2 separate regions of the Homo sapiens genome follow, and region 1 is linked to region 2. The links come from fine-mapping of genetic effects on gene expression. Tissue or cell type: whole blood. Region 2 holds a variant in brackets; the other region holds the start of a gene. All regions are shown on one strand. Distances are between the middles of the regions.

Region 1 (8,185 bases), 75 kb after region 2:
TAATGTCCTCTAACCCAGAGCTGCACCCCTACTCCTTTCATTCCAAGTTTTAACTCAAATTCTGTCTTATATAGATATTTTGGAGCCACCAGTGAGACTTGACTATTGTCCTTTAGGAAGCAACAGAGACCTTATGGCCCCAAACCCTAAAATATTTACTGCCTGGCCCTTGGCAGGAAGTAGTTACCGAATGGTTGTTTACTGAGCAAAGTTGATATGCATCCATTTATAGTCCAAGTATTTATTAAGCATCTATACATCAAGTACTATGCTGTTATTTTCTATTTAAGGAGATTTCAGACAAATGAAAGATATAGACAACTTCTTAAAATGCTCACTAAGTGCTACTTTAGGGGCAAAAATAAGTTGTAAGATGAGCATATATAGGAGGCAGTAACCCAAAACTGGAGAGGGGGGACTGTAACCAAGAAAGGTTTCCTAATTAAAAAGTTTTCTAAGTTAATACTAGATGATTAGAAAGAGTTCACCAGGCAAAGGGGTAGAAGGAACAGCAATTACAAAGACCCACAGAAAAATTGGGAACTTTAAATATTTCAGGGATGCTGGGTGCTGTGACTTGAGCCTTGTAATCCCAGCCACTCCGAAGGCTAAGGCGGGAAGCTAAGGCAGGAGGATCCCTCGAGGCCAGGAGTTCAAGACCAGCCGTGGCAACATAGCAAAATCCCCCCATCCCCGCACCCCACCAAACTCCACCCCATCCATCTCTTTAACAAAATAAAAACAAAAACAAAACAACAATATATATCAGAGAAATATATCAGAAAATGGTCAGCAAAGGTTTAGAGATACCTATGTCAGGCTGATTGCATGGTAGTGGATGGAAGAACTGTCATTAATTTATTAAAACAGCACAAGTTGAGCCACCAGCCTAAGGTCAGAAAACATAGCCATCCACATGTGTGTCTTAGGATAAAAGGCGGGAAATGATTGTTGAGGGAAGCTGAAGTGCCACAGTAAAGGCTGGTTTTGTAGGAGGGTGACAGGATAGGAGTCAAAGGATTGGGATGAAATGTAACTGCAAGCCAGTAACCCTGACCTGGACAGGAAGATAGTGGTCTTGCTGGCGGTGTTCAGGCTCTTTAAGTACGTTTCCATAGACAAAGAACCTTAGCAACTCTTCTGGGACCTGCTCTCTGGTTGCAAGCTTTGCCTCCCTAGCAAATGAAGATAAAATAACCTTCTTCATTAATCTTTCCAAATCCCTCGGCAAGCCACATCTGAAATTCTTTCCCTGCTCCCCGACTCCTTTAAGAGAAAGAAAAATTGTCTGGCTCTGTCATCCAGGGAATGAGCCACCATATCCAGCCCACATCTGAAATTCTTTTGATGGTTATAAAGCCTTTTATCCCAGGATTAAAGATAAAGACTTAAAATGCAAATGTTGGCCGGCGCGGTGGCTCATGCTTGTAATCCCAGCACTTTGGGAGGCCGAAACCCAGCTACTCAGGAGGCTGAGGCAGGAGAATCACTTGAACCTGGGAGACGGAGGTTGCAGTAAGCCAAGATCGTGCCATTGCACTCCAGCCTGGGTAACAAGGCGAGACTCCATCTCAAATTTAAAAAAAAAAAATGCAAATGTTGATTGGGGTTAAAATATTGCAATTTTTTTCTGACTAAAGTACAATCATAAAATGAACAAACAGCTATCAGATCCTTTCCAGTTTTAATTTATCGGACTTTGAGGGAAGGGAAGGAATTTCTTAGATCCTTACTTATTATAGGCTAGTCTTGCTTATTCTCAAATGGAGCTAGGGAGGAATGGGTAAAAACTAAGAAGACATTTCGTCCGATTTAGGAAATGTGTGTTTTGTTTTAGTTGAGGTATGTCTTATTTTGTAAGATACTGTATATATTTTTAAGTAATTATTTGAGAGCATTGTTACAGATATATCACTTTTTAGGGAAAGATTTTTTTTGCCCCAGTTTATAGCTATTTGGTTTAAAAATTTCATTTAATTTTCAGAATTTTTGCCAGACTCCTCTGCCCCAATAAAAGGCTCTAGATTAGGTGTATCTTAGGTGCTCCCCAAACCCCTGGCCACCCCATGCATACCTTTTCATTATTCACTGTTTAATTCTCTGTCTCCGAGTCTAGATCCTAAGTCTCCATGAGAGCAGGGACTATTCAATTTTGTCTACTGCGTATTTCCCAGTTCCTAGCTCAGTGTCTGGTGCTCAAAAAATGTTCTTCGATAAATAGATGATAATAATATTGAAATATTGTGTATATTTCTTTGATTTGTTAGTAACTACAAATAGTTTATTGTGTATATGTCAATTAGCAGAAGAAAAAGAGCAGTTGTGCTCTTTTTTATAAGCATTTTTAGGAGTTACTGTGCACCTTATTACAAGAAAAGTGGCCAGGAATGGTGGCTTACACCTGTAATCCCAGCACTTTGGGAGGCCAAGAAAGGCAGATCCCTTGTGACCAGGAGTTTGACAACCAGCCTGGGCAACATGGAGAAACCCCATCTCTACAAAACAAAACAAAACAAAACAAAACAAACAAAAAAATTAGCCAGGTGTGGTGGTGTGGGCCTGTAATTCCAGCTACTCGGGAGGTGGGAGAATCACCTGAGCCGGGGAAATCAAGATTACAGTGAGCCATGATTGTGCTACTCACTGCACTCTAGCCTAGGCAACAGAGTGAGACTCTGTCTCTAAAATAAAATAAATAAAATAAAATAAAAGCTTAGGCTATAAAAAACAAAATTTCTATTAACATGGTCTTACTAAATACATATTGTAGGCCGGGCGTGGTGGCTCATGCCTGTAATCCCAGCACTTTGGGAGGCTGAGGCGAGTGGATCACTTGAGGTCAGGTGTTCGAGACCAGCCTGGCCAACATGGTAAAACCCTGTCTCTACTAAAAATGCAAAAATTAGCCGGGCGTGGTGGCAGACACCTGTAATCCCAACTATTGCAGAGGCTGAGGCAGGAGAATCACTTGAACCTGGGAGGTGGAGGTTGCAGTGAGCTGAGATTGTGCCACTGCACTCCAGCCTGGGCGACAAGAGCAAAACTCCGTCTCAAAAAAATAAAATAAAATAAATAAATAAATAAAATACATATTGTGTTTTATGTTTAATAAAGGGAATACAGGGAAGCTTTCCCTTTTCCCTTGGAAGGTTCACTGAAAAATCAACTGTCAAATGGCAGACTAATAGGAAAAAAGACATACAAAATTTATTTTAATGTGCATAACACAGGGAGATTTCAGGAGAATGATTACCCAATGACTCAATGGGGTAGAGACGTTTATATACTCTTCTTTATGGGGGAAAGGGAGATTGGGGAAATGTGGCAACTTAAGGTATAGTAAAGGACTTTTAGGGGAAAATGGGGAACATACAATGGCCTGGGAAAAAGTGTGTTGAGCCCATACAGCAGACAATAGTTTGTGACAAAAGTCTGTCCAAGAGTGTTGACAGACTTCAGTCTTTCTTCCTCCAATATGAGTTAAGTAAATGAAAAATCAGGTAAGGCAAATATGTTCCTCTTTGGCAGGTCTAGTTTCTAGGCAGATAAGGGAAATTCAGAGAACGACATCATTTGGTGCTTTGGGAGAGACAAAGAATTGAGAGGCAGGAGGGGTAATGGGGAAGGTAAGAGACACCTTGAAGCTGCTTCCTCAGTTCAGCGCGGCAAAGCACCATATTTTGGGGTATCGATTTCTGAGTCCCAACAATTTTTACATCACGTTCCAGACACATTTTATGACTTTTCTTCACTGCATACTTCTTTAAAACTCATCTTACTCTATTTTTCTAAAGGTATTTGCATTAAATGTGCAAAATACTAATGCTCTAAAGAGGAATATTTTGAAATATTAAGAATTATTTATATTTCAATGTAAAAAATGTGATTTTTTTTCTAGAAATAAAATTTCAAATTCAAATAGTTGCTTTGGGGTTTTTATAGAAGATGCATATATATATACAGATATATATATGTTCATTTCTATTAAAATCAATGTGCTAATGTTCATATGTGTTAATATTAATAAAGGTCCTAGGATTAAATTTATTCTGAAATAGACTCCTAGGATTGTGAAAGTTTGAGGTTAGTCTGGCAAAAGACACATTTAGGGGAATATCTTTCTTTAAAAAAAATTTTGTTTTTTTGCTGTCTCTTGATCTCCCGCCTCACACATTCCACTTTATTGACATTATAGAAAAATTAATTCATTTCAACAGCACTTTTACTTGCATTGCTTTTTTTTTTTTTTTTTTTTTTTTTAGACGGAGTCTTGCTCTGTCGCCAGGCTGGAGTGCAATGGCACAATCTCAGCTCACTGCAACCTCCGACTCCCGGGTTCAAGCAATTCTCCTGCCTCAGCCTTGCGAATAGCTGGGATTGGTGGCACGCACAACCACGCCCAGCTAATTTTTGTATTTTTAGTACAGACGGAGTTTCACCATGTTGGCCAGGATGGTCTCGACTCCTGACCTCGTGATGCGCCCGCCTCAGCCTCCCAAAGTGCTGGGATTACAGGCGTGAGCCACCGCGCATGGCCACTTGCACTGCTTTTTAGCAGCGAGCTCTCAGGTCAATCAACTGCTTCCTTAGGTTTACAAACTGTGGGTGTGTATTTATAAACACAGTTGTTTTGTATATCCTTTGTAGAGCACGTGGTGAAAGTGACACAGGAATAAATGCAAACCTTTTTTTCCCCTTCTTTTTTCAAAGACATAAATCCCAGGAACACTCACAACCGCAGAAGGGGATTTGATGGACATACAAAGAAACTAAATTTTGTACCGCCGCAGAAGTGAAGCATGGATAAGCTCAAAGGTATTTAGGCAGTGTTTTATTTCAAGATTTGTTATGGGGACCTCCGCCACGCCCTGGTCCGCCTTCACCAGGCCGGGCAACACTGCCCAGTCCCTGAGACCCGGCCGCCCACTAGGGAGCCGCGGGGGCGAGGCCGTGGGGGTGGCCTCGGGGAGGAGGTCCCGAGAACCACACTTCCCAGAGTGCCGTGCGCAGCCCCGCCCAGCCCGCCCCGCCCCCAGAGGCCGCGGCTCGCGGGGGCTGAGGCGAGAGGACGCCAAGCGCCCGCCGGGGCTCCGCGGGGCCGCGCAGGAGAGCGCGCGTCCGCCGGGTGCTCGCGCGGGGTTGGTGAGGTTCCGCTGAGGGCGGCCGGGGCTCTGGGAGCGTGGTAACGTGGCTGCAACCTTAGCGACATCAGGAAGAACAGGGTCGAGGATCGAGGTAACGGGACGCTCGTCTCCCCTCAGTCCCCTCGTCTCCCCTCAGTCCCCTCTTCCTTTGTGCGGTGCCGTCCGCTCGCGCCGAGCCCTCCCTCACCCCAGCCCCCAAGTCGCAACACCGTCCCGTCTTGGGTCTCCGGTGTGCGGAGGAAATTCGAGCCCTCGTGCACCAACCGAAACTCCACAGCTGAGAGGGCTTGGGGCCCGGACAGCAGGAGATCCAGCCCCTGAGCAACCTTCCACGGCTTTTGTCGCCCCCATTGGCGGGAGGAGCAGGGTTATGCTCCCGGCTCCCGTAGGGGAGCTCCAGCCTCTGGCTCTGTCAGCCTCCCCGGCAGCTCCTTGACTCCTTCCTCCCAGTCTTTCGAAGAGGGGCCCAGGCAGGTGCTTCGCGGGGTCCAGGAAGAGGGCAGGCGCGGTGCGGCTGGCGCGGGTTCGGGGCCCCGGGAGGGCGGCCGGACGCCCCCTGGAGCCGCGGCCTGCGGGGGCGGGGCGAGTGGGCCACCTCCGGGCCACGCCGCGCGGGGACGAGGCGAGGAAGGCACTGCCTGTCCCCACTCGGGGGGCTTGCTGGCCGCCCTGGAGGTGCCTTCCCGGGAGCGGCGGTGTAGACCTTGTGGAGAGTGCCTCCTGATGTGGAACCAGGAACCGCAGCCTCTTTCTAGACGCTCAGCCGCCCGGTGGAGTTGTTACCGCCACGATGACAGCTCTTTACGCCTTCCACTCCGTGCTGGGTTCAGTTGGCTTGCTGTTTTCTTCAGAGAGAGCGATTTGGCTACATAGCTTGAATTTTCTACGTGTCTCGTGCTTTACTGGACTTGCACTGTTTTTCCCTCTTGGCAGTGTTTAATCGGGTGACTTTTCATAGAAAACGTTCAGTATTTTCATCTGTGTTAATGGCATAACTTTCTTCTTGACTCTGCCCTAAGCTAATGTTACCAGTTTAGAGGGATACTTTGGGAAAAGGTCCTTAGAACCTGGGTTGACATAAGTATTTTATCTGCTGGTTGCACGTTTTTTCCTTTGCATTGTTTTTCTCCTATACAAGATGGTAATTGTTGGACTCTTGGTGTTCTTTATTCTCTCTCTAGAAGGAAATCCTCTTCGCGCATCTTTCTCGTGTTCTGGCCCTGCGGTACTCTTGGGTACGCAGAGGACTGCTGCTAACAGTGCTGGCGCCTGGAACGCTGCTTGGAGATGGCGGTGGCATTAAGCTGCTGCTTTTCCTCAGACTTCCTCCTGGCACCCTTCTTAATTTGTCAAACTGACCCAGTTCAAACTTCAAACTTTTAGTCACTTTATTTATTTCGTCACTTTTTAAAAAAATTGCTTTCAAGATACCAAAATTGCGTAAGCCTAAATATAAAAAGAGGTGTCTCAGGGGCCGGGTGCAGTGGCTCACGCCTGTAATCCCAGCACTTTGGGAGATTGAGGCGGGGGGATCACTTGAGGTCAGGATTTTCGAGACCAGTCTGGCCAACATGGTGAAACCCCATCTCTACTAAAAATAACAAAAATTAGCTGAGCGTGGTGGCACATGCCTGTAGTCTCAGCTACTCGAGAGGCTAAGACAGGAGAATGGCTTGAACCCGGGAGGCGGAGGTTGCAGTGAACCGAGATCATGCCACTGCGCTCCAGCCTGGGCGACAGAGTGAGACTCCATCTCAAAAAAAGAAAAAAAAAGTCTAAGGATACTCTATTCAACTACATATGAGCACTTAGCTTCATCATTTTAATTTTTAAAGCTGCCAATTCTTTTAGCATTTGATAAGATTACTGATAATTGGTTAAGATGATATATTCTGTAATAATTGCACATTTTTTGACAAGAAACTCAGTTCACATTCAGTGAGGGTTATTTTTTAAAAACAGTATTTCTTCATTCATTAAGAAGAAAGTTAGGGCCGGGCGCGGTGGCTCACGCCTGTAATCCCAACACTTTGGGAGGCCGAGGCGGGCGGATCAAGAGGTCAGGAGATCAAGACCATCCTGGCCAACATGGTGAAACCCCATCTCTACTAAAAATACAAAAAAATTAGCTGGGCATGGTGGCGCATGCCTGTAGTCCCAGAGACACGAGAATCACTTGAACCTGGGAGGTGGAAGTGAGCTGAGATCACGCAGCTGCACTCCAGCCTGGCAATAGAACGAGACTCCATCTAAAAAAAAAAAAAAAGTTGGGTAAATTTTGATCCCACCTGCTATTTTGAAAAATGAATTTTCTTTTTTAGAGCAGTTGTAAGTTCACAACAAAACTGAGTGGAAGGTATAGAGATTTCCCATGTATCGCCTACCCCTACAGAGCCAAAATCTCTCATCAGAGTGGTACGTATATTACAATTGATGAACCTACATTGACATGTTATCACATCCACAGTTAGGATTCATTCTTGGTGTTAAACATTCTGTGGGTTTGGACAAATAACCCTTTTGTTTTTATCAAGAACTTTTGAGAGTTGTAGAGAACTGAAATGGATATTGTCATTTTAAAAAGATTAAAGAGACTATTGCAGACATCTTAAACATTAATTTCAGATAGTTTTTGTGTTTTATAAATTGAATGTTTAAATTTTTGGTTACTTATATTGGAATTCCCAAGAGTCACATTTATTTTTGTATATTAAGAACTAAAGGGCCCCACATGGTAGCTCACACCTGTAACTGCAATTTGGGAGGTCAAGGCAGGAGGATTGCTTGAGCCCAGGAGTTTGAGACCATCCTGGGCAACAAAGTGAGACCTTTCTCTATATTCCAAAAAAAAAAAAAAAAAAGAGGCCAGGCTCGGTGGCTCATGCTTGTAATCCTAGCACTTTCAGAAGCCAAAGCAGGCCAATTGCTTGATCCCAGGAGTTCCAGACCAGCCTGAACAACACGGCGAAACCCTGTGTCTACAAAAAAACAAACAAACGAACAAAAATTACCCAGATGTGGTGGTGTGCACCTGTGGTCCC
Region 2 (8,185 bases):
CCAGAGAGAAAAAACAGAGCAGGCATCCGAAGAGGACTTGGAAAATTTCATAGAGGGCACTCCAAAGAATAAGGCTCTATGAGGCACAGGACTGGGGTAAGGCCCTCACTTGCTCAGATCTGAGGGTGGTATAGGTACAGCCAATCTTCAACTGTATGCAAAGCTTAAAGGAGTAGCAGAGTAAATGTATGGTTGAAGAGAAAATGCTTGGTTAGTTTCTAATCTAAATCTTATATGATCTATATAATAATGTTTCCAAAGATGGAATGAACATCTAACATTAAAGTTCCCCATTTACACAGGCCATGAGCCCCGAAACACCCATCCCAGGATTGCTGATGGGTGTTTCGGGGCTCATGGCCTGTGTAAATGGGGAAGTTTAAACATGCCCTTGCAGCATGGCTGCCGCATGAGAGGCATGTTGGAAATACAAACTGTTGCAACCCATCTCAAACTTACAAAATCAGAATCTGCATTTTTTAAAAACTCCTAGGTAATTCATATGTTTTAGAGGCATCTTTTTTTATAACACTAACTTTGAATTTAGTGCAGCATTATGTGAACTGGGCTGTTCTGTACATGTGATAATTACAACGAATTTAACAGTTACCCTTGTGTTTATGTCTTCACAAATTACGTGAGAAACCGTAAGGGGGAAATGCCAATCCCTGTCCTAAGAGTGCTCTCACGCTTTCTACTATTTGCTTCCTCTTGTGTCTAAAAGTTTTCAGACAGCTCATGACCTTTTCTATTCAGCTCTTCAAATCTGCCAAGTGTTTTGCTGAAACCCCTTCTTTATCTGATTGGATGTATTACATCTGATCAAATTTGCCTGTCAGCTGCTTGCAGCAAGGGTGGAATTACAGGAAAGTTAAGTGGGAACTTACTTGTATTTAATGGGAATCTTTTATAGTAAAAGTAATCACAGTGAAATCAAAGCAAGTACATTCTGACTTGCCTAGGGTGCAATCATGTCTCATTCAAACTAACTTCACAAACCCAGTGAGCAGCTAGAGAATATTCATAAATTCACATCAAAACACTTATGAAAAGTGAAGTCATTTACCAATTGCACTCCAGTAATGATCCATTATCTCAATAGAGATCTTCTTACTTTTAAATGTGAGGCTAACTTGTATAAATTAAGACTTAAATATTCCCAAACAACACTGAAAACCAAATTGCCTGTTCCCATACCTAATTCCAATAACTAGGATTTTTCACTTTTTTTTTTTTCTTTTTGAGACAGAGTCTCACTTTGTCACCCAGGCTGGAGTGCAGTGGTGTGATCTTGGCTCACTGCAGCCTCCATTTCCCGGGTTCAAGGGATTCTCCAGCCTCAGCCTCCTGAGTACCTGGGTTTATAGGCATGCACCACTACATCCAGCTAATTTTTGTACTTTTAGTAGAGACAGGGTTTCACTATGTTGGCCAGACTGGTCTCGAACTCCTGGCCTCCAGTGATCAGCCCGCCTCGGCCTCCCAAAGTGCTGAGATTATGGGCGTGAGTCACTGCACCCAGCCCTGGATTTTTTGACTTTCTGTTTCTCAACACCTCTTTCCTTCTGATGGCTCTTTACTAATTAGTTCAGACTTCGTTCAATTAATTTGATGCATTTAGTTCTCTACTTCTCTTCCATTGTTCTCTTTCTCTTTTCAGCCTTCTCTTTCTAAGCTTCTCCCCACATTCTAATCTAGTCTGGAAACATAGCCTATTTTTCAGTCATCAAAACTATCCTGTATTACCTATGTAGCAGGAAAAAAAAAAAGACCACTTGATGTTGAATTCAATTTGGAATGATGTGATTTAAATATTTCAAACAATATTGCAGTTCCAGTGTACCTTGTTATCTAACAATATTGCACATTTGAGAGTATTATTTTCTATGCTGGTGAATTTAATGTAGAAATATTCAAGATAAACTACAACAACTCATAGACTTTTTCAAGCCAAAACAAGGCTTTTTCTACAATTCATTCAAGAAAAGATATTCACTCGGCAACTTTGATAGGAAATACATGATGCTAGAATGTAGAAAAATCAGAGAGGAAGATGTGATCCTTGCTTTAAAGATGTTTACAACAGATCAGCTAATCCAGCCTGTTTGTAAATAACAACTCACTCAAAGAAAAATAGGGTTAGTCCCTTTGAAAAGTTACTAACCAAGTGCTTTGTGAATAGACAGCATGATTAATTTGGGTGACAGGGCAAATCTTTGCTGAGGAGATGCAATTAAAGATATTAAAGAGGAGGAGGTGCAAGAATATGCCACAGGGAACAAACATGCATGTTGGTACAAAATGTTTTACAAGTTGTGCGTTTGTAGCATGGTAAGTCATCCAGGGTCAACATGGATCATGCACCTGGGAATCTGGGGGAATAACAGCTTGGAAAAGATGTTTGGGGCCCAACAGTACAGAGTTTCAAAAAACATGTTGACAGATTTGGATTTTATTGAGGCAAGCCATGCAAGAGTAGAGTACATAAAACCAACGAGATCAGATCTGTGGTTGAGAAAGACAAAACTAGCACTGAAGTGGAGGATAGAGCACAGAAGAAAATAGTAAGTTATAAAATAACCAATTTATAAATAAAGATAAATATATGTATGCTATTAAATTTCACAATACAGGCATATATACAGTCACAATATAAAACCATGCAAAATTTCAAATTGCTATAAGTACATTTATCTGAGCCATGTATTTAATAGTTATGTATAGATTATCTATTATTGACCATGGAAAAAGTGAAGTTAACATATTATAGCTGGTATTTATTGATTACTTTCTACCCACCTTTATTTCAGAAAGGATTTCCAGTGCTTACAAGAGTATCTAAAATTATAAAGTGCACAAGTCTTGAGGCAATAAGAGAGTACAGCATAGTGATGAGTTCTCAGATTTTGAACTAAATATAAGGGGGGCAAGATACAATATTAAAATAACCATTGCATGTAAACAGAATTACCATATGATCCAGCAATTTCACTTCCGGGTATATACCCAAAGGAATTGAAAAGAAAACTCAAATAGATATTGGTACACCCACATTCATAGCAGCATTATTCACAGTAGCCAAAAAGTGGAAGTAACCCAAATATCCATCAATGGATGAATGGATAAACAAAATGTGGCATATACATACAGTAGAATACTATCCAGCTTTAAACAAGAGGAAAATTCTGACACCATGCTACAACATGGATGAACCTTGAGGACTTTATGCTAAGTGAAATGAGCTAGTCACAAAAGTACAAAGTATAAATAGTGTATGATCCCACTCATACGAGGTATCTAGAGTGATCAAATACACAGAGACAGAAAGTAGAATGGTAGTTTCAGGGGCTGAGGGGAATGGAGAATGGGGAGTTATTATTTAATGGGTACAGAGTGTCAGTTTAGGAAGTTGAAAAAGTTGTAGAGATGGATGGTGGTGATGGCTGCAAAATATGAATGTAGTTGATACTACTGAACTTTACACTTAAAAATAGTTAAAATGGTAAACTTTATATTATGTATATTTCACCATAATTTTTTTTTTCAAGACGCAATCCTTTTCTGTCACCCAAGCTGGATTTCAGTGGCACGATCTTGGCTCACTGCAACTTCTATCTCAGGGATTCAATGATTCTCTTGCCTCAGCCTCCCGAGTACCTGGGATTACAGGTGCCTGCCACCATGCCTGGCTAATTTTTTTTGTATTTTTAGTAGAGACAGGGTTTCACCATGTTGGCCAGGCTGGTCTCAAGGTCTCAAACTCCTGACATCAGGGGATCTGCCCATCTTGGCCTCCCAAAGTGCTGGGATTGCAGGCATAGTCACCATGCCTGGCCCATAATTTTTAAACGTTTAAATTTTATTTATTTATTTATTTATTTTAGATAGGGCCTTGCTCTTTTGCCAGGCTGGAGTGCAGTGGCTACATCACAGCTCACAGCAACCTCGACCTCCTAGGCTCAAGCAGTCCTTGCACCTCAGCCTCTTGAGTAGCTGGGACCACAGGTGCACACCACCAAGACCAGCTAATTTTTTGTATTTTTTTTGTAGAGATGAGATCTTGTCATGTTGCCCAGGCTGGTCTCTAACTCCTGGGCTCAAGCCGTCCTCCCATTGACCGTCCAAAGTGCTGGGATTACAGGCCTGAGCCACCAGGCCCTGCCAATGTTTAAATTTTTAAAAAGAACCATACCACCTAAGTTATTCTTAATCTTAATGGCTACATATAATTGTATTATATTCATCTATTGCATTATTTATGATTACATAATTGGTTTGTTTCTATCAACCTTTACTAAGCCCCTTGTACATCTCCAGAGCGATGCTAGGCGGAAACTGGTGATATAAAAAGAATCTTTAAAGGTCCAATGAGAATAGAAATTATATGCTCCATTAATCAATATGATATAAAAGGGATTTAATCCTTTCAAACATTGGCAAACACATATAGAGGGCTTATTATTCTCTGATACACTTTCCTACAAACCTTACATCCATTTACTCATTTAATCATCACAAAAAATCCTGTGAGGTAGGGATTTCAACTGGCTACAATTTAAAGATAAGCAACTGTAAAGTGTCAATACCTTGTCATCCAAGGCCACACAGCCAAGGAATAAATGGTGGAGTTGTCAGTTCAGCTACAGTATCCATGGTCTTAATCATCAGCTAGAAGGCCTCTCATGTGAGGAGGTTGTATTTTTCAGTTCCTCCCAGTTTTTCTCTGACTTCTTTGGCTGATTTTCTCGGTCTCTTTTTTAGAGCTCTCTTGCTTCTCCTGCTCCTTGGATATTGCTGTCCCTCTGATAACGGTTGTAGTGAAACAATGTGTGGCCAGCAGAATTCTAAGATGGCACCAAGACTACTTTTTCCTGGTGTACATGCCCTGCATAATCCCAATGACTGTGAATAGCATGGATTTTGCCCTGGGATGAGGGTATGTTATATGACACAGTTGACTTTTAAAAAGGGAGATTATCGTGGTGAGCCAAACCAAATCAC[A/G]TGAGTTTTTGAAAGCAGAAAATTTTTCTCAGGTTTGTCCCAGGAGAAGTCAGAGAAATGCACTCTGGGAAGGGGAAACTTTTCTGTCTGTTGTCCCCACTACCGCCCCTCGCATCCGTGATTCTGAACCCCATGATAAATCCCCTTTGAACCCTCTTCCTCGTTTTGATGCTGATCCCCCTTTATGGGACTCCAGTTGGCATTATGATAATTCTTCTCAGCCCAGTTATGCCCCTCTACCTCTTTGGCATCCCCGGGCACCTTGGATTGCTTCTTTACAGCAGAGAACATCGGGCGTTGCCACTGCCGCTCCTCTCCCTCAGTATCAATGTAGATTCAGACATTCTGCTTTGTTTACCTCCAGCCTGACTATTCCTATATAGAATTGTGTTAAGCCTTCTTACATGCTGTTAGTGGGAAATATCAAAATTTGGACAAACAATCAAACTGTCCAATGCATTGTCATTTATACACTTGTGTTAACCCCCATTTTGACTCCAGGAAAAGTGTAATGTTGCTTTGAGCTCAAGAAAGAATCTGGATACCAGTAACTTTACCCAGACCTTGGGAATCTTCCCCCTCAGTATATTTAATTAATGAAGTGTTAACAACGAATTCTCAAAAGATCTAAGAGATTTGTTTTCACTTTAATCGCTGTGATCATGGGCCTAATTAGTCACTGCACTGGCCACCACTGCCGGAGTGGCATTACACCGATCTATTCAAACGGCTCATTTTGTTAATGATCGGCAAGCCAATTCCACCCAAATGTGGAATGCTCAACAGGGCATTGGTCAAAAATTAGCTAATCAAATTAATGATTTAAGACAGTCTGTTATTTGGCTTGGAGATCGGCTAATGAGTCTCAAACATCGCATGCAAATGCAGTGCGATTGGAATACTTCTGATTTCTGTATCACACCATATTCCTACGAGATTGATCATTCACGGGAAATGGTCAAAGGACACCTTCTGGGTAGGGAAGATAATTTATCCTTGGACATAACTAAATTAAAGAAACAAATATTTGAAGCCTCTCAAGCTCATTTATCCATTGTGCCTGGAGCTGAGACGTTAGATCAGGTGGCAGAAAGTCTTTATGGACTAAACCCCACAACTTGGATTAAGTCTATTAGGGGCTCCACTGTAGTAACATTGGAATTATGTTTCTCTGTTTAAGTGGCTTGTTTTTAGTGTGCCAGACCAGTCAAAGAATCCTGCATCAAAACTAAGAGAATGAACAAGCCTTCATCGCCATGGCACATTTATATAAAAAGAAAGGGAGAGATGTTGTGGGAAGTCAGGGACCCTGAATGGAAGGACCGGCTGGAGCCATGAGAGAGGAACATAAATTGTGAAGATTTCATTTTAATATGGACATATATCAGTTCCCAAATAATACTTATATAATTTCTTATGCCTGTCTTTACTTTCATGTCTTAATCCTGTTATCTTCATAAGCTGAGGATGTATGTCACCTCAGGACCACTGTGATAATTGTGTTAACTGTACAAATTGATTATAAAACATGTGTGTCTGAACAATATGAAATCAGTGTACCTTGAAAAAGAACAGAATAACAGCGATTTTTATAGAACAAGGGAAGACAACCATAAGGTCGGGAAAAAAGAGCCATATTTTTCTTCTTGCAGAGAGCCTATAAACGGACATGCAAGTAGGAGAGATGTCGCTAAATTCTTTTCCTAGCAAGGAATATTAATATTAATACCCTGGGAAAGGAATGCCTTCCTTGGGGGAGGTCTATAAACGGCCGCTCTGGGAATGTCTGTCCTATGTGGTTGAGATAAGGATTAAGATACACCCTGGTCTCCTGCAGTATCCTCAGGCTTACTAGGGTGGGGAAAAACTCCACCCTGGTAAATTTGTGGTCAGACCAGTTCTCTGCTCTTGAACCCTGTTTTCTGTTGTTTAAGATGTTTATCAAGACAATATGTGCACCACTGAATATAGACCCTTATCGGTAGTTCTGCTTTTGCCTTTTGCCTTGTGATCTTTGTTGGACTCTTACTAGTAGTTCTGCTTTTTGCCTTTTGAATCATGTGTTCTTTGTACCTACTCCCTGTTCTTACACCCCCTCCCCTTTTGAAACCCTTAATAAAAACTTCCTGGTCTAAGACTCAGGCGGGCATCATGGCCCTACCAATATGTGATGTCACCCCCAGCGGCCCAGCTGTAAAATTCCTCTCTTTGTACTATCTCTCTTTATTTCTCAGCTGGCTGACACTTATGGAAAATAGGAAGAACCTATGTTGAAATATTGGGGGTGCGTTCCCCCAATACCTAGGGCATTACTGTACACTACTGTAGACTTTATAAACACTGTACATGTAGGCTACACTAAATTATAAAACTAATTTTTCTTTCTTCAGAAATAAATTAACCTCAGCTTACTCTAACTGTTACCAGTTCAGTCCTGATGAATTAACTGGGAAAGTTCCTTTTTCTTATTGTTTTTCTTTAGTCTATTTATAGACACAACTGCTTAAAGAAATAAGATGGCCTGGGGTGGTGCCAGAGTTTCTTGACCCCTGACCAGATACCAAAGGAAGATCAGAATCCCCCAAACTGGCACAAACTGGAACAGATGACCCCCCTAGTTGCCTTTAGGTCATTAACATATCACTGTAACGCTAAAATTCCCTTCTGTAAAAGAAAATGTCCACCATTTTGTGACATGGATTGTATGAAGACATATGCACGAAATGAGCCTGCGTGTCTGGAGGCTGCGTGCCTACTTAGTCCTTAAAAAACCCATGCCTCTACTGATCGGGAAAAAGCGGCATTGAGAGTGAGAGCCCCTCCTCCATTCCTGGCCAGGAATAAAACCTGCTTGCCTCTTTTCCAACTGGGTGTTATTTTGGTTGATATAAAATAGGAGAAGAACTCAGTTTACTGGTAATGTAACTTTTTTACTTCAGAAACTTTATAATTTTTTTAACTTTTTAACTCTTTTGTAATAACTTTTAGCTTAAAACAAACCCGTTGTACAGCTATACAAAAATATGTTCTTTCTTTATTTTCTTATTCTATAAGCTTTTTCTTTTTTATTTTATTTTTTACTTTTTAAACTTTTGTTAACCACAAAGACACAAGCACACATATCAGCCTAGGCCTACACAGGGTCAGGATCATTGATATCACTGTATTCCCCCTCTGCCGCTTG

The links. PIP is the estimated chance that this variant, and not a neighbour inherited with it, causes the effect.
Region 1: KLHL8 starts here. The variant in region 2 is fine-mapped to the expression of KLHL8 in whole blood (TOPMed, PIP above 0.99).

Annotation. Positions count from the first base shown.
Region 1 is chr4:87,217,468-87,225,652 of GRCh38, reverse strand. KLHL8 (kelch like family member 8) reads left to right here and starts at 5,035. Exons shown (of 10, transcript NM_020803.5): 1 at 5,035-5,235. RefSeq lists silencers at 4,816-5,305, 5,646-5,915 and an enhancer at 5,421-6,033.
Region 2 is chr4:87,292,686-87,300,870 of GRCh38, reverse strand. It overlaps MIR5705 (microRNA 5705), which reads left to right and starts at 288; the gene lies at 288-376. The variant A/G (reference allele first, on the strand shown) is at 5,002.